Linked DNA regions of Homo sapiens. The protein of the gene in region 2 interacts with the protein of the main gene of each other region in a pairwise test. Each region holds a gene or a part of one and is shown on either strand. Other genes may lie near its edges.

Region 1 (3,817 bases), on a different chromosome or scaffold from region 2:
CTTCCCGTCGAACTCAGCGCTGCCGTCCAGGAGGCGGCTCCCAACCCGCGTCCACGTGAACATGGGCTCCGGGAAGACTTCGTTCTGTTGGCCAGATCAGGGGAGAGGTGGGTCACAGGAGGGCCCATTCTGCCAGATCAGCAAGGGGTCAGGGGCTGCCTGGCCAGGGGTGGCACAGCATTCTCATCCGACGGGTTAGGAGTGGCTGCCCTGAACTCCAGGAGGAGGAGGAGTCTGGGACTTAAGAGAATGTCTCGTTGAAGAGCTAGGTTTACTCTGAGTTCTAGAAGGTGTGAAACATGCATGCACCTCTTTGCCATTCCTCATGGGAGCTGATTCTCCCAATTACACATTGGGAAACTGAAACCCACTGGATGTGGCTGGGGATCAAAGGAAGAGTGTTAGAGAGGACTGCCAGGAATGCTGGTGCTGGGTCGGTGCCTCTACCACCTCCCACCACCCTCCCAGATGCTCAGAGAGAGGCTGACCTGAAACCCATGGACCAGAATCCTCACTGTGTCCCCTACCCGGGCTCTGCTGGGCGTCATCACAATTTTGGGTCCTTTGGGGGCAACTGTAGGGAGAGAAAGGCCAGGTCAGAGAGAGTAAGGAAAGGAGGGACAGGGTACATGGAAGAGAAAGTTCTAGTCTAGCAATCAACATCCTTGGGATCAGCTGCTTCTGTGAGAAGCTCAGTGTGCTCATTCATTCATTCACTCATTCACAGCTGCATTCATTCAGACATATTCCCTAAGCCCATGCAATGAATCAGATGCTCTCTAGGACCTGGGGAGTCAAGGGTGTATATAGGACATGATTCCTGCTCTTGGGGGGTTCACACATCAGTGGGGAAGAAAGACAAACAACAGACAAGTACAAGCCAGTGCCATGAGGGACAAGATCAGAGAGGCCCAGTGGACAGTGGGGTCAGGGAGGGAAACGTACCTGGGGCACGTGCTACTAGGCTGCTGAGGGGGAGCAGCCTGCACCAGCAGCCAGACTTGAGGTACCCCCAACTCCCACCCACGCTACCCCCTTGGGAGGTGCGTTTCTGGTGTCATCAGCCCCATTGTCCAGTTGAGTTAACTGGGCCTCAGAGGGTCATGAAGTGATTTGCCAAAGGTCACACCTTGAGGAGAGCCAAGATCAAGGTGCGGGTCTCCTACTCCTGAGTCAGTGCTCTTTCTAACAGGTTAATCTTCCCAGTGGGATTTTTCTAGAACCTCTGGGTAGGGGTGGACATGGTGTGGGAAGAAAGACCACCTCCTTCCTTGTGCACAGCCTCCCTGCCTCTCTTCCTCACTTTCTTGTATCACCTCTTATTCAGTCCCTTTGTATCTCTGAGCTTGAAAGCCAAGATGCCCAAAGGCATGGCTATCCTCTGAACGACACCTGAGAATATCAGGGATGGAGGAGCCACTCGGGATCATTGGGTCTGTTCCCTTCATTTCAGCTGACAAACAGAGCTCCACGGATAATGTAGAGGCTTATCCAAGGTCACTCACAGAGCCAGTTAACCATGTTTCCTGACCTTCTCGCCAGCACTCTTTCCCCCAGATTCATTCATTCACTCACTCACTCACTCAACAGTAATTATGGAGCCAGCCATTTGGAGCAGAGCTGAGGATATGGTGGTGAACAAGACCCAGTGCCTGCTGACATGGAGCTCCCACTTCAGTAGGGGTGAGAGTTCATAAGCAAACAAACACATACGCAAAACAGGATGAGAGTGACAGTGCTCCATGCAGATCACTAGACCAAGGGAGGGGGCTCAGAATTGGTGGGTGAAATCCTCAGATAGTGGTCAGGGTGCCTCTTCCAAGGAGGTGACATTTAAGCTGAGCTGTGAAGCTCACGAGGCATATTCCAGGCACAGGGAACAGCCAGGGCATGGGACAGAGGCAGGTCAGGGAGGGAAGGGGGTTGGGAGACAGATCCCATTGAGTTTCCAGGGCCGGAGGAAGGGGTGAGGGTTTTGTTTGGTACTCTATGCTTTGTGCTACTCTGTGTAAACATCTTCTAAGGGTGGAAAAGGTTTGTCCTGAGGCCCTGGGGCTGCCCTGGGATTACCCCCACCTTTCCTTGCTGGTCCCCGGACCTCTCTTTCTGACGCAAAGCTCTTAGAACGGAAATCAGAGCAGTTGGCAGATGTGGGTGGCCTCCCAGGCACTGCCAATTTCATTCTCTGAGAATGAAATCAAAGGACTATTAATTAAACCATAAGCAAGACATCTGAAATGCCACATGGGTCTAGGGAAGCATCCGTGGGAAGAGCAGGGCTTGCACCAAGGAGAGGGAATCGCTGGGAAGGGAAGGGCTGGTTCTACAGCTGCATCTGCCAGCCAGTCGTGTGGAAGGGCCACTGGCCTGGGATACCTGCGAGCTGAGTTCTAATCTGTTCTTTGCGCCCTTGGATGAGTGGCTCCCCTTCGCATTCCCAAGTGCACCATGGGAACAATGATACCCCTTGCCTAACACGCGGGGCCGTTAGGAACATCAGGCAGTGGCAGGTTTGATGGCTAACATTTGTTTAGCGAGTCCTAAGAGCCAGGACCTACATGAAGTGCCATATGCATAATCTCATTTAGCCTTCCAGCCTTTGAGATTGTCGCCATAAGGAAATGAAGGCTCAGGGAGCCCAAGTAAGTTTCTGGGTTTTAAAATGAACCCTCAAGTGCTGTAGACATCGTTTTGCAGATGGGAAACCAGGCCTAGGGCAGTCTGCCCCTGGGTAATCTTGGGGGCTCTTTACGTTCTTCAGGTGCTGCTGGGGCGGCATTGTTGGCTGCAGCCAGGAGAGGGCGCTGAAGGGCATCCCGGTCCTGGAGAAGGCTAGAGCCCTGGAGGGCAGGGGCAGACACCTTTCCCTTCTAGGTTAGATTCCTCACTGCCCTGCTTTCTAAAGGGCTTGCCTTACTCCTTCAGGCCCGGGCCTGGGCCTGCTGGTTCTAAGGGAAGAAGGAACCAACTTTTCTCAGGTGTCAAACATGCGCTAGACTCCATTTTAGGCATTTTAGGACAGTCACACCATTCTGGTACTTACGAGGCAGGTTATCACGAAACCCATTGTGCAGGTCATAGAACTGGCCCTCCAGGGGGGCAGTGGCTTGTCCAAGGTCATGCTATAGGAAGTACCAGTAACAAGACGTGATAGCACATAGGGCTTCAGAGGGAGTCTCAGAGCCCAAGGGTGGAGGTGGGGCAGAGATGGGTGCCTTCTTCCACCCAGGGCACCCCGGCTCCTGGGCTCCTGTGTGCATCTGATCCTGAGGGGCACAGAGGGTGGGCAGAAGAGGGGTCTGGTCCTCCCTCGCTGCTTTCAAGCTCTATCCTGGCAGCTGCCACTAGACAAGTGCGTTTGCAGCCGATGGTCCCTGACTCCCTCTTTTACTGCTGTGTTGAGATGTTGCTTCTGGAAGCCAAGCCTGCTGCTGTCAGCCTCCTCACTCCTTCCACCCTCAGCCTCCTGACACTCCGAGCCTGGCCCATTAGCAGCTCCAGACAATCAAAACCTACACCCCCTTGCCTGCTTCTAGACCACAATGGCTGAGAGTGCCCGAAAGGAATGCTCTTAGTCTCCGGACTTTCCTGCCTCTCAAGCCCTGGACGTAGAGAAAGAGCAGGAGTCCAGAGACCCAGGATTGACACCTAGCCCTCTACTTTCTGGCTGCATGACTTGGATGAGTCATTTCAACTTGTTGGGCTTCAGTTTTCTAACTTGTAAATGGGGAGAATAGGCTACCACCCTGCTTGAGGAAATACTCTGAAAATGACAATGGAGGAGGGAGATAAGACTGCAATGTGAAATGTAAAGTGA
Region 2 (3,817 bases):
GGAAGGGAGGGACAAAACCCTGAGTATTTTATTTCCAATTTGTATGCTGTGATAGAATATTGAAACTTACCCAACTATCAATACATTCAAGAGAATCAGTACGAAATAGCACATTTTCACTATAAGTAATATTTAAATATATAGTGGGTTTAAGTATATTAATTATACCCAAAAGCATAAAATTGGTATTTCCTAAGAATTGATCAAGGATATCTAAATACAAGTCATGATTAGTATATTTTAAACCAGTGTGGTTCTTTATGACGTTCTGTTGTTTTTCAACCTAATTGTCAGTGAGATAAATATAGCATCATAGAAAAAGATGCATTAACCAATATATTCAGTGACAAGTATAAACACTCAAACTTCCCCAGAATTCAAACAAAACTGTTGCATATTCTCCAAATTAAAGTAACAAAATTTTCCTTCCCTCTACTTTTTTTTTTTTAACTAGCATTTTTGTTTTCTCAATTGTTGAAGGTACGATTTGCTTTTCTGATTTTCTAATAGACTTCTGGAAGAATAGTATTCTAGAGGGTTTTGAGGATTTTATTTGGGCAAAAACAATTGTTTATTGTATACATGGAAAAAGCAGTTTTAAAAGAAGACATACTTTTTGTGAAGATTAATGCAAACTTTGGTTTGTTTAATGAAACAACAGTTTTGAGGTATTCCCATACCCAGAACGCTTAAATTTTCTAGATGCAAACCACCGAAACAACAATAGAGAATTCAATGAAGTGTCAAAAAGAAAGTTAATTTAATTGGCCTTCATGAAAAACACAAACTTGAATTCAGACAATGAATGAATGGAATGCAGTATCAGCCACGTGTCCATGTTTGGAGTGTCAGTTGATGAGCACCAAGAAGAATGGGCAGCTTTACAGTTCAGCAAGCACAGATGGACTCTAGATAGATGGATCAGCTTACCAGTTTTCTGACCCTCATATTATCAGCACTCAAAAGCTTCAGTGATAGGGTCATTGTCAGTTCCTAATATTCTGAACTAGTTAGAAAACTGAGGGCACAGAAACTCATGGGTTCATGTGGGTCTTGTTACTGCTGTGGCCCCTAGGAGCTGCAGGGAGACCTGGCTACAGGGCCACTTGCCTGCATGGAGCTTATTCTGCACTTATCCCTCACCCTTCTATCATCTTCCTTGGCTGATTCTGACAGCCATCAAATGCCCTCCCAGATGTGCTCACTGCCACCCCCATTTCCTTTGTTGACAGCACTACTGGATATTATGCTAAATGTTGGTTTTGTTTGTTGTTTAGTCTGTTGATAGATGTTCCAGCAGCTATTACATTTGACTTAACCTATATATTTCTTTTTTGTTGTTGCCCTTAAAAAGCACACTGTGTTTAGTTTGCGAGGGCTGCCATAACAAAGTGCCACAGACTGGGCAGCTTACACAACAGAAATTTATTTTCTAACAATCTGGACGCTGGAAGTCTGAGATCAAGATGTTGGCAGGGTTGGTTTCTTCTGAGGCCTCCCTTCTGGGCTTGTAGATGGCTGTCTTCTCCCTGTGTCTTCATATGGTCTTTCCTCTGTGTATCTGTGTCCTAATCTCTTCTTAGAAGGACATGGGTCACTTGAGATTAGGGCCCACCCTGATGATGTCCTTATTTTAACTTAATTGCCTCTGCAAAGATCCTGTTTCCAAATACAATCACATTCTGAGGTATTGGTGGTTAGGACTTCCCCATATGAATTTTGAGGTGATACAAGTCAGCCCATAACACATTTTTAAAAGTAAATTTTTGTGGATTGATCACCCCTGCTGTACCTGCCCCACCCCCAGACGTGAGCATCTAGAAGGCAGAAACTCTGTTTCTCTTGCAATTCCCACAACCTAACAGTGTCCAGCACTTTGCAGCTATTTCATGAACTCTTGCTGCATGAATGCAAAAAAGGTTGGTAAGAAACTTGAAGTTGAAAAGTGGCACTATTTCTGACTGCCAGAAGTAGCACCTGGCGAGTAGACTAGAACATGTTCCGATGAGAAGAAGAGGCAAAGAAAATACAGTACATTTAAACCGAGACAGCTTTTGACAGAAAGGCAAATGATTGTTGCTTGGGATCACCCATTCTCCACATCCAGCACTGGGAATGGAATGGAAGTTCAGGCCCTTGCGGAATACCAAAGGTCAGGTCTGAATCATTTGAGAGCAAAGGTAATTAATGATTGTCAATAGATCTTTTCTCTTAAGCTCTTCACTTTAGAGTCTCAAAATACTGCAGGTATAAGAAAGAACAATGCTGTAATGCAGATAGATCATATTTGTTTCCAGTAATTTACCACGGTTTCTTAAAACTAGCTGTGCTTAAAAAAATGAAAAGTTTAAATATCTCCTTTAGGTACTATGTCTAGGGATATGCTGAGTTCTTAGATACCAGCCAAGCAGGTTTTAAGAATGTAACTGAGACTCCTCTGTCCCTGCCATTTTTGGCTTAAGGTTCTGACTTTGAAGGAGATTGGAAAACTACCAGAAGGCCAAAGCAACGTTCATTTTTCTAAAAGTATACAATGATTACTTGATGATTCAAATACTAAAAAATGCCTAATGTGCTAAAAATGCCTAATAGTGAAAAAAAAAGCCTTGGTCAGTGTAACAAATATGAAGTAAGGGAGAAAGTTTCCTTAGTCATGTGTGTTTTGCTGTCAGATATTCATGTTCCCAAGTTCTTTGGCAAAAGTCATTGGCTTTTTTTTTGTTTTTGTTTTTGTTTTTTTTTTTTTTAGCAAATGGAGAGTTCTTAGAACAACAGATTGTTAGAATAGGTGTAATAATTTCTGAAAGGCAAGCTATTTTCCCCTACAAATTAGACTTTGGTGGTTTTAGTAATGATGCTTAGAAGTTAAATGTTAAAGCAGTGTCATTTCGTTAAAATGGAATATCCCAGAAAAGCACAAGAACGCAAGAATGACAATACTTACCTGACCTTGCTTTTCTTTGCTTCCTGTGCCTACAAAGTTTTTACATGTACTTTTATCAACGTTTTTGGTTTCCAACAGAACTTAATTTCTCACTAATATTTTAAGACTGTACTTGAAATATGATTTTTAAAGTGGTAATATAGAAATGTAATCACTTTATATCCATTTATATGAAGTGAATTTAACAGTAGATTCAAACTTGGGGTCCCCTAAAGTTGAGCCCAAACTGGGCTTTTGTGTGCTGTGACTTTGTTATAAGTCTGAAAAAAGCTTGTGTATTTGAGATTATTTTGTTTTCTTCACCCATTCCTGGATAAAGGAAATGTCAGAAGTGGCTGCTTGTCCCAAACAAGGCAGATGGTGGATTACTTTCTGAAGGAGCTGGGCACAGGAGAGGAATATGTGGAAAAGTAAGGTGGTTGGGGTGAGGGGAACCACATGGCTCAGAAAACAGACCCAGTCCAAAAAGAAAATAGTTCTAGCTCTTGCAGAATGAGCTCTCTTTAAGACCCAAACGTGGGTGGCGGCTGTGGACTGGTATAATTTTGAGGGAGTGGTGGTAGGCGATTTGCATTCTGGGATAATGCGAGGGCAGCAGGATAGTGGAAGGAACTGAAGTTTAGAATCTGGAAACCTAGTGTGAGTTTCAGTCCTACCCTACACTACCTGTGTGACTTGGGGCAAGTCGACCTTTTTGAGTTTCAATTTCTTCATTTGTTTAATGATAAGACCAATATTATTGGCTTATCATCAGGACAAATTAAGTAATGTATGCAAAATTGCTTTGTAAGCTAGGATGTGCTACAAATGTCACTGGTGTAGAGCAAAGATAGTTAGTTACTGTTCAATTATTCCGAAGAGTGAACACACTTA

What was found.
Region 1: the proteins of NREP (region 2) and IGSF21 interact in a two-hybrid assay, tested with the Homo sapiens proteins (one large-scale study listed by BioGRID and IntAct).

What each region holds. Positions count from the first base shown.
Region 1 is NC_000001.11:18,373,067-18,376,883, reverse strand, and holds part of IGSF21 (immunoglobulin superfamily member 21 precursor), read right to left. Parts: intron 575-3,817; coding exon 489-574; intron 85-488; coding exon 1-84. UniProt on the Homo sapiens protein: Involved in synaptic inhibition in the brain. Selectively regulates inhibitory presynaptic differentiation through interacting with presynaptic NRXN2.
Region 2 is NC_000005.10:111,736,646-111,740,462, reverse strand, and holds part of NREP (neuronal regeneration-related protein), read left to right. Parts: intron 1-736; exon of another isoform or gene 737-2,159; intron 2,160-3,817. UniProt on the Homo sapiens protein: May have roles in neural function. Ectopic expression augments motility of gliomas. Also promotes axonal regeneration. May also have functions in cellular differentiation.